Regions from separate parts of the Homo sapiens genome. Here region 1 is linked to region 2. The links come from fine-mapping of genetic effects on gene expression. A gene starts in region 2. The other region holds a variant in brackets. All regions are shown on one strand. Distances are between the middles of the regions. Region 1 holds the start of LOC124904730 (a long non-coding RNA gene). Region 2 holds the start of SAE1 (SUMO1 activating enzyme subunit 1).

Region 1 (4,384 bases), 27 kb before region 2:
AAAAAAATGCAGGATTTTGAACCTCTCTGGCCTGAGGGTTCCAATCCAGGCAACTGAGTGACTTACTTCTAAATATTTCTGGGCAAGTCTATTGTCTTCTTTGGTATTCTGTTCTCTCAGCTTAGTTCAAATAACCTAAACCGTGAGAATTAATATACTAGAAGGTTAATTCATTTCATTGGTAACAAAGGTTACTTCAATTACTCTTTTTTAAAATGGAAACAATCAGGCTGGAAGCTGTGGCTCACGCCTATAATCCCAGTACTTTGGGAGGCCAAAGTGGGCGGATCACTTGAGGCCAGGAGTTCGAGACCAGCCTGGCCAATATGGAGAAATACCGTCTCTACTAAAAATACAAAAACCAGTCGAGTGTGGTGGCACACACTGGCAGTTCCAGCTACTCCGGAAGCTGAGGCAGGAGAATTGCTTGAACCCAGGAGGCAGAGGCTGCAGTGAGCTGAGATTGTGCCACTGCACTCCAGCCTGGGTGACACAGCAAGACTCCATCTCAGAAATAATAATAATTTTTAAAAATTAAAAATTAGCCAGGTGTAGTGGATGTCTGTAATTCCAGCTACTTGGGAGGCTGCAGTGAGCAGTGTTTGAACCACTGCACTTCAGCCTAGGTGACAGAGTAGTCAGACCCTGCTTCAAAGAAAAAAAAAAAAAAAGGAAGAAAATAATCTCCAGGGTTGCTGGATTATGCTGCAGTTAACAGCCACCAGTACACTGAACAAATATTCCGTGGATATGACTGTGCTACACACTGGACTAGGAGTCTAGCAGTGAACAAGACTACCTTCCCCCTATGGAGCTTAAAATGGAAGCGGGGAGACAGAGACAAGCAACCTAAGGGCCACCAGCAGTGGAAACCAAGGTACCACATGAAAGAAAAAGAACTCGACTGTTTCTTTAATGACGGGTGTAAGAGAGGATGAGAAGGCTGTCAACAAATTGCTCAGAAAGAGGGAGTCAAAAGAATGAATCACTCCTCAACTGTGGAATTTCTCAACTAATTCATGAAAAGAGTATTAATAGTACTCCAAATTAGTCACCTATTTCAGGAGCAGAGGTAAAATTAAATCTGTATTTCTAGTACAGTCAGGAACAAACCCTACTTTGTCTTTAATTTTTAAAGAGCTATTACAGAGTAACCACTGTCAGGCATCTCATCATCTCTGGCAGCACCTAACACAGATAACTCACAATAAAGAAACGTGAACATGGGAGCATGACAGTGGCCTTTTATCCTAAAGGTTTTCCAGAATGATCCCGATGTTCACATATTTTATCCCACCATCCTCCTAATATGTCACGTTACCCTAGCAACTTCAGGGGTATCCCTCTTTGTAAATCATAGGGTGAGCCTATGCCCTTACCCACTGTCTATGCTCTCGCCCCTTCTTCCACAGCTGTGTGGCCTTGGTCAGGTCACTTAATTTCTCATAGCTTCTTTATCAGCTATAGATGGGGACAACAAGACTGGATGTGATTCCCTGCACTCAACACAGTGCCTTGCACACAGTAGGCATTCTGCAACTCATGGAAGGAGCTGGCTGCGGCAGTGAGGGCAGCCACAGCAACTCTGCCCCTACGTCCGTCTTTCGGTTTATCCTACTTCCTCGGACAGAGCACTGCTCTTGGCTCTGGTGCCTGGAAAGCTTGTCCCTCACATGCCAACACAAACAACTCTTCCTCTGGGAAACCTTTTTGGGCACTTCCTTACCACCACCTCATTGCTGTCTCCTCTGGCTCCTGCATGTCAGTGTCCATGTGAGGCTTGTGCCCGAGACCTGATTGTGACGAAATCCGTCTCAAATCTTCTCCTGAGCACCAAAGGAAGCAAACAAACTACTGAGCACCTATTTCTGGGCTAGGCATTTTCCTAAGCCCTTATTTATCAGAATGGCACAGGTGCTAGAAAGGCCCACCAGCTTCCTAGAGGGTGTGAAAACCACAGGCTGTTTTTCCTTTTTGTTTTTCAA[C/T]GTTACTAATTTAGGAGCACAAAGTGTACCTTGAAGCAAAAGTGGCTTTACAACCTTTGGTTAAACCTAGGGAAAGCGGGGAGGGGAAGGGAACCCTAACCAGAAAACCTTTCACAGGAAACAGGAAGTAGCTGCTTCCCCACCCCCACCCTGCACTCTCTGAGCACAACCCAACTAGTTATTCTGTACAATTAGGCAAAAGGGCAGCATCTGAATCAAGGAATCTTTGGTGTTGGAAGAGAACCTTGAAATCACAGGGCCATCTGTGCCAAAACGGAAGGAGGCATGTTATTGCAAGGTGACAAAGCCATGGCCAAAACCCAGTCCAGCCCAGTCGGTCCGCAGGGCCCTTGGTGAGGCTGCACAAAGGCAAGGTTTGGAATCCCAGGGATTGTCAGCAGGAATGCACTGAATGCCTCGTAACCTTAAGGGCTTGGGGTTGGAATCCGAGCCTGCATTGTTCAAGTGTAACAGCTGACTAACAATGTCAGCTGGGGAATATTTTGATACCTTCCAGCTCAGCTCCACGTAGGAAGAGGCTGCACAAAAACCTCTGTGCCTGTAGGGCCCTCCGGAATGGTGGGCAAAGGCCTGGGCTGCCCACATTCTCCTCATAGCGAGATAAAGTGGTTCCCAAAAGAGGTTTCCAGATCCACCCCAGTGGGCACCATCAGAACTGACTCCAGGGAAACTTCCAGCTGTGAATGGCTAACAAAGCTAGGCACTCTCTCCATTTGAATGTGAAAGACCTGCCTCAATCAGAGAAGGCCCTTAAGCCATAAAACCCTTCACACCAAGGCCAAGTGTCACACTTGTAAGAGGGTGTGATTTATAAACTGACAGCACCCACAAAGCAGCTTTTGTACTCCTCCGTTTGTTAACAATTTATCTCCCCCCACCAAATTCACGGAGCTATTCAGATAAATCTTGACTGGGCCTCAAAAAGAAAGAAAGGCACCCAAGTTTTGGCCAAAACACCAAGGTTCACTCTGGATAATTATGGTTCTGTGAATAGACACTAAAATTAGGGCTTAATTCCTCTGTATCACACTTACAGCACCAAACTACTCCAACACAAACACAAAATGAGAAAGAAAATCTCCAACGCCGCCTTGCTGGAGAGTCTGAGAGTTCCACTTTTGTGGTTTTCTGCAGTCTCTTTTGTGGTTTCTGCACTCTTTAGAATCCCCTCGTTAGCGTAATTTAACTCAACATTCTGACCAGCTGTTTTTCTTTCTCAACATTTAAATCTACAAAGCAAAGAGTAAATATGGGCTTGGTCATGTCTTTCCTCTCAGTTCAATGAAACCAATTCTGGCCCCTTCATCTTGCTTTCCCCATCGCATGGTTCCCATCTCAGATTCCAGCACTAGCTACAGAAACCATCGTCTTCTGATCCCTTCTCCACTCCTTTCTATAAATGTAATTATTGCACCTAATCCAAATAGAGGCTGAGCCCCTAATATAAACTACATTAACAAATATGAATCTGAGGATTCATACCATCCTGGCCAACATGGTGGAACCCCATCTCTACTAAAAATACAAAAATTAGCTGGGTGTGGTGGCACACACCTGTAGTCCCAGCTACTTGGGAGGCTGAGGCAGGAAAATCTCTTGAACCTGGGACGTGGAGGTTGCAGTGAGCTGAGATTGTGCCACTCCAGCCTGGACACAGCAAGACAACATTGAAGGATTTTTCTTATTAAAGGTTATTTGGCAAAAGGAAAAAAACAGGCAAAGAAAACTTTTTTTTTTGGAGACAGAGTCTCGTTCTGTCGCCAGGCTGGAGTGCAGTGTTGCCGTCTCGGCTCACTGCAACATCCGCCTCCCCAGTTCAAGCTATTCTCCTGCCTCAGCCTCCCAAGTAGCTGGGACTACAAGCAACGCACCACCTTGCCCAGCTAATTTTTGTATTGTTAGTAGAGAAAATACAAAAAATTTTTTGTTTTGCTTTTTTTTTTTTTAGACAGGATCTTGCTAGGTGGCCCAGGTTGGGGTGCAGTGGTGTGACCATGGCTCACTGCAGCCTCCACCTCCCAGGCTCAAACAATCCTCCCAGCTCAGCCTATGAGTAGCTGGGCCTACAGGTGCTCACCATCACGCCAGACAAATTTTTACATTTTTTTTGTAGACACGGGGTCTTGCTACTGTAACCCAGGGCTGGTGTTTTGCTGCTTTAAAAAAAAAAGTTTTCTGGTCGGGCATGGTGGCTCATGCCTGTAATCCCAGCACTTTGTGGGGCTGAGGCAGGTGGACCACGAGGTCAAGAGATAAATACCATCCTGGCCAACATGGTGGAACCCCGTCTCTACTAAAAATACAAAAATTAGCTGGGTGTGGTGGCACACACCTGTAGTCCCAGCTACTTGGGAGGCTGAGGCAGGAAAATCTCTTGA
Region 2 (4,384 bases):
CAGGTGATGCTCCCACCTCAGTCTCCTGACAAGCTGGGACTATAAACTTATGTCACCATGCCTGGCTAATTTTTGTATTTTTTTGTAGAGACTGGGTTTGGCAACATTACCCAGGCTAGTCTCAAACTCCTGGGCTCAAGAGGTCCCCTCCCCCCAACTCAGCTTCCCAAAGTGCTGGGATTACAGGTGTGAGTCACTGCGTCCAGGCTAAGTAAAAATATTGATCAATGAGGCCAGGCATGGTAGCTCATGCCTGTAATCCCAGCATTTTAGGAGTCTGAGATGGGGGGAGATCTCTTGAGGCCGAGGATCGCTTGAGCTTGGGAGTTCAAGACCAGTCTGGGCAACATGGCAAAACCCCATCCTACAAAAAAAAAAAAAAACAAAAATTAGTCGGATGATGTGGTGGGGCACGCCTGTAGTCCCAGCTACTTGGGAGGCTGAAGAGGGAATATCCCTTGAGCCTTGGAGGTTGAGGCTACAGTGAGCTGTGATCCCACCACTGCACTCCACTGGGCCACAGAGAAAGAAAAAAAAAAAAAACAAGCTGGGCACAGTGGCTCACGTCTGTAATCCAACCACTTTGGGAGGCTGTGGCGGGCAGATCACTTGAGGTCCGGAGTTTGAGACCAGCCTGGCCAACATGGTGAAAACCCATGTCTACTAAAAATACAAAAATTAGCCAGGCATGGTGGCGCGAGCCTGTAATCCCAGCTACTCAGAAGACTGAGGTGAGAGGAAGTCTTGAACCCGGGAGGCCAGAGGCTGCAGTGAACCGAGGTCACCCAACTGCACAAAACAAAAGACGTCCTGGCGCGGTGGCTCACTCCTGTAATCCCAGCACTTCAGGAGGCCGAGGCGGGTGGATCACTTGAGGTAAGGAGATCGAGACCAGTCTCGTCAATATGGCGAAACCCCGTGTCTACTAAAAATACAAAAATTAGCCGGGCGTGCTGGCGGGCCCCTATAATCCCAGCTACTCGGGAGGCTGAGTTAGGAGAATCGCTTGAATCCGGGAGGCAGAGGTTGCAGTGAGCCGAGATCGCGCCACTGCCCTCCAGCCTGGGCGACAGAGAGAGACTATCTCAAAAAAAAAAAAAAAAAAAAAAAGAATTCCCTAAGCTACTCCACAATGCCCAAACTACGTCTCCTGTCCTATCAAGACACAGCCCCATACCAAACACAAGCAACCTTTTCGGGAGCCTACGGCCGTCCCCCTCCAGCCTCTCCGAGCCTCTCAAGATTCCCATTTGAGATAACTTGCTCCAAAACTCCTCAAAACCCGCATTCTCTCAGACTGGCCCGCCCGTGAGCTCCCACAAGAGTGTAAGCTCCCGTCTGTCCGGTTGGCCAGTCCAGTCTCCCCTGTGTGCAGCACGGAACCAGGTCCCATACCCTCGAATGAATGAACTGCGTCCCTCACCTCACCCTTTCCACGTATCCCCAGCCCCTCTTATCCCCTAACCGCGATCAAACCCCACAATCACCGCTTTCGGGCCTCGGATTTCCTGAGTTTGAATTCTCCCGCTCTCTCAGGACTCCCCAACGCCCCCTTCAGAGCTCCCATCCTTCGGAACGGCCCTCCCAACCACTTCCCAGACCTTCCAGAAACATCCCCAATCAACTCCTCCAGTCCCCCCAAGAGAGAGACGATCCCAGAGCACAGAATTCCCGCCTCCTCCCTTCAAATCACACCTTCCCGCTCCTTCCGGGCCGCAAACGCCTCAGAATAGACGCCCCCTCCAGACCCTAGCGGCCTCAAGCCGCGCCGGCCCTGACCGTTTCTGGGCCTCCAGTCCCCACAGGCGGATCTGCCGGTCATACTGTGCCGCCTCCTCCTCGCTAATGCCGCCGCCAGCCTCCTCCTTCTCCACCATGGCGCCGGCTCTTCCTGCCTCAGCTCCGGTCCCGCTCAAGCCAACCGCCCGCCGGACCCGCGCGCCACCTACCGCCGCCGGCAGCACGCCCGGAGTGCTTCTGCGCATGCGCAGACCCTCCCACGCCTGCGCAGTACCTCGTCCGCGGAGCCTGGGACCAAAAGTACCTCACGAGACTCAAAGGCGATCCGGCGACTGCATGTCACGTGACGGAGGGTCCAACCAATCCTAGCCCCAAAAATGGCGCGGCTTAAGGCCCCGAGGGCGTTGCCCACGTGGTCACTTATGTGGCACTTAAATTCTGCAAATATTTAAGGAGTGCATACTGAGATCCCAGCAATAGGGATGTTGTAAAATAACGGTATTGAGTGAAATCGACAAAGCCCTGTCCTCATGGAGTTTACGATCCAGTGAGAAAAGCCCGAAGAGAAATAAATATAAACCCAGCGATGATAAATGCTTTGGAGAAAAATAAAGCAGGACATGGGGCTACAGAGTAACAGGGGTGGTCAGGGAAGGCTTATCAGAGGTGACATTGAACTGTCAATTTTTTTTTTTTTTTTTCATAGAGATGGGGTCCCTCTGTTGCCTAGGCTGGTCTCCAACTCCTGGCCTCAAGCCATCCTCCCGCCTCTGCCTCCCAAAGTGCTGGGATTACAACCATGAGCCACTGTGCCCAGCCTTTCATGTCCCTACTATGTGTTGCACTTTGTGCCCAGCCCTGGACATACAATAATAATAAAAATGAACACATCTCTGCCTTAGAGGCAGTCACGGCCCAGTGGGAGAGAGGAGCGTTAAGAAAACAGGAATAGGCCAGGCACGGTGACTCGCACCTGTAATCTCAGCACTTCGGAAGGCCAAGGCAGGCAGATTACTTTAAATCAGGAGTTGGAGACCAGCCTGGCTAATGTGGTGAAATCCCGTCTTTAGTAAAAATAAAAAAATTAGCAGGGCATGGTGGCTCACACTTGTAGTCCCAGCTACTTGGAAGGCTGAGGTAGGATAATTGCTTGAATCCGGGAGGCGGAGGTTGTAGTAAGCCAAGATCATGCCTCTGCACTCCAACCTGGGTAACAGAGCAAGACTCTGTAAAAAAAAAAAAAAAAGAAAGAAAGAAAGAAAGGAAGGAAGGAGGGAGGGAAAGAGAGAGGGAAAGGAAGGAAGGAAGGGAAAAAAAAAAAAAACCAGGGATGGCCCCAGGTGGTCAATATAGGGAAACGCTATCTCTATTAAAAATACAAAAATTAGCTTGGTGTGGTGGTACTGAGTCTATAGTCCCAGCTACGTGGGAGGCTGAGGTGGAAGGATTTCTGATGTTAGAATCATAGGCTTTTTGGCAGGGCACAGTGGCTCATGCCTGTAATCCCAGCACTTTGGGACGCCAGGGAGGGCAGATCACGAAGTCAGGAGTTCGAGACCAGCCCGGCCAAGATGGTGAAACCCCCATCTCTACTAATACTAAAAAATTAGCCGGGCGTGGTGGCACACGCCTGTAGTCTCAGCCAATTGGGAGGCTGAGGCCGGAGAATCGCTTGAACCTGGGAGGCAGAGGTTGCAGTGAGCCAAGATCCTGCCACTGCACTCCAGCATGGATGACAGAGACTCCCGTCTAAAAAAAAAAAAAAAAAAGCCACCATGCCCACCTAACTTTTGTATTTTTAGTAGAGACAGGGATTGCACCATGTTGGCCAGGCTGGTCTCGAACTCCTGAACTTGTGATCCACCCGCCTCGGCCTCCCAAAGTGCACGGATTACAGGTGTGAGCCACCATGCCTGGCGGAATCATAGATTTTTATTTAAGAATTGCTTAGGCCGGAGGTGGTGGCTCACGCCTGTAATCCCAGCATTTTGGGAGGCAGAGGTGGGCGGATCACGAGGTCAGGAGTTCGAGATCAGCCTGGCTAACATGGTGAAACCTTGTCTCTACTAAAACTACAAAAAATTAGCCGGGCGTGGTGGCAGGCGCATGTAGTCCCAGCTACTGAGGAGGCTGAGGCAAGAGAATAGCATGAACCTGGGAGATGGAGCTTGCAGTGAGCCGAGTTCGCGCCACTGCACTCCAGCCTGGGCAACAGAGCAAGACTCCGTCTCAGAAAAAAATAAATAAATAAATAAATAAATAAATAATAAGAATTGCTTAGCGCCCGGCATGGTGGCTCATGCCTGTAATCCATGCGCTTTAGGAGACTGAGATAGGAAAATCACTTGAAGTCAGGAGTTCATGACCAGCCTGGGCAACATGACAAGACCCCTGTCTCTACAAAAAAAAAAATTTTTTAATTAGCTGGGTGTGGTGGTGCGTGCCTGTAATCCCAGCTACTTGGGAGGCTAAGGTGGAAGGATCCTTTGAGCCCAGGCGTTAGAGGCTGCAATGAGCTATGATGGCACCACTGCACTCCAGCCTGGACAACAGACCTTGTCTCAAAAAAAAAAAAAAAAAAAAAAAAGCTTAAGATATTTTTCAGATCCTGAATTCCAGCAAAACAGCTGATACCAACCAGTGT

Evidence for each region.
Region 1: its variant is fine-mapped to the expression of SAE1 in whole blood (TOPMed, PIP above 0.99).

What each region holds. Positions count from the first base shown.
Region 1 is chr19:47,155,838-47,160,221 of GRCh38, reverse strand. The region is part of intron 5 of SAE1 (SUMO1 activating enzyme subunit 1); the gene reads right to left. It overlaps LOC124904730 (a long non-coding RNA gene), which reads right to left and starts at 3,552. Exons shown (of 2, transcript XR_007067277.1): 1 at 3,041-3,552; 2 at 1-1,826. RefSeq lists enhancers at 1,554-2,096, 2,097-2,638, 2,639-3,182. The variant C/T (reference allele first, on the strand shown) is at 1,986.
Region 2 is chr19:47,128,424-47,132,807 of GRCh38, reverse strand. SAE1 (SUMO1 activating enzyme subunit 1) reads right to left here and starts at 1,973. Exons shown (of 9, transcript NM_005500.3): 1 at 1,780-1,973. The coding sequence starts at 1,877. RefSeq lists enhancers at 1,653-1,892, 1,585-2,199.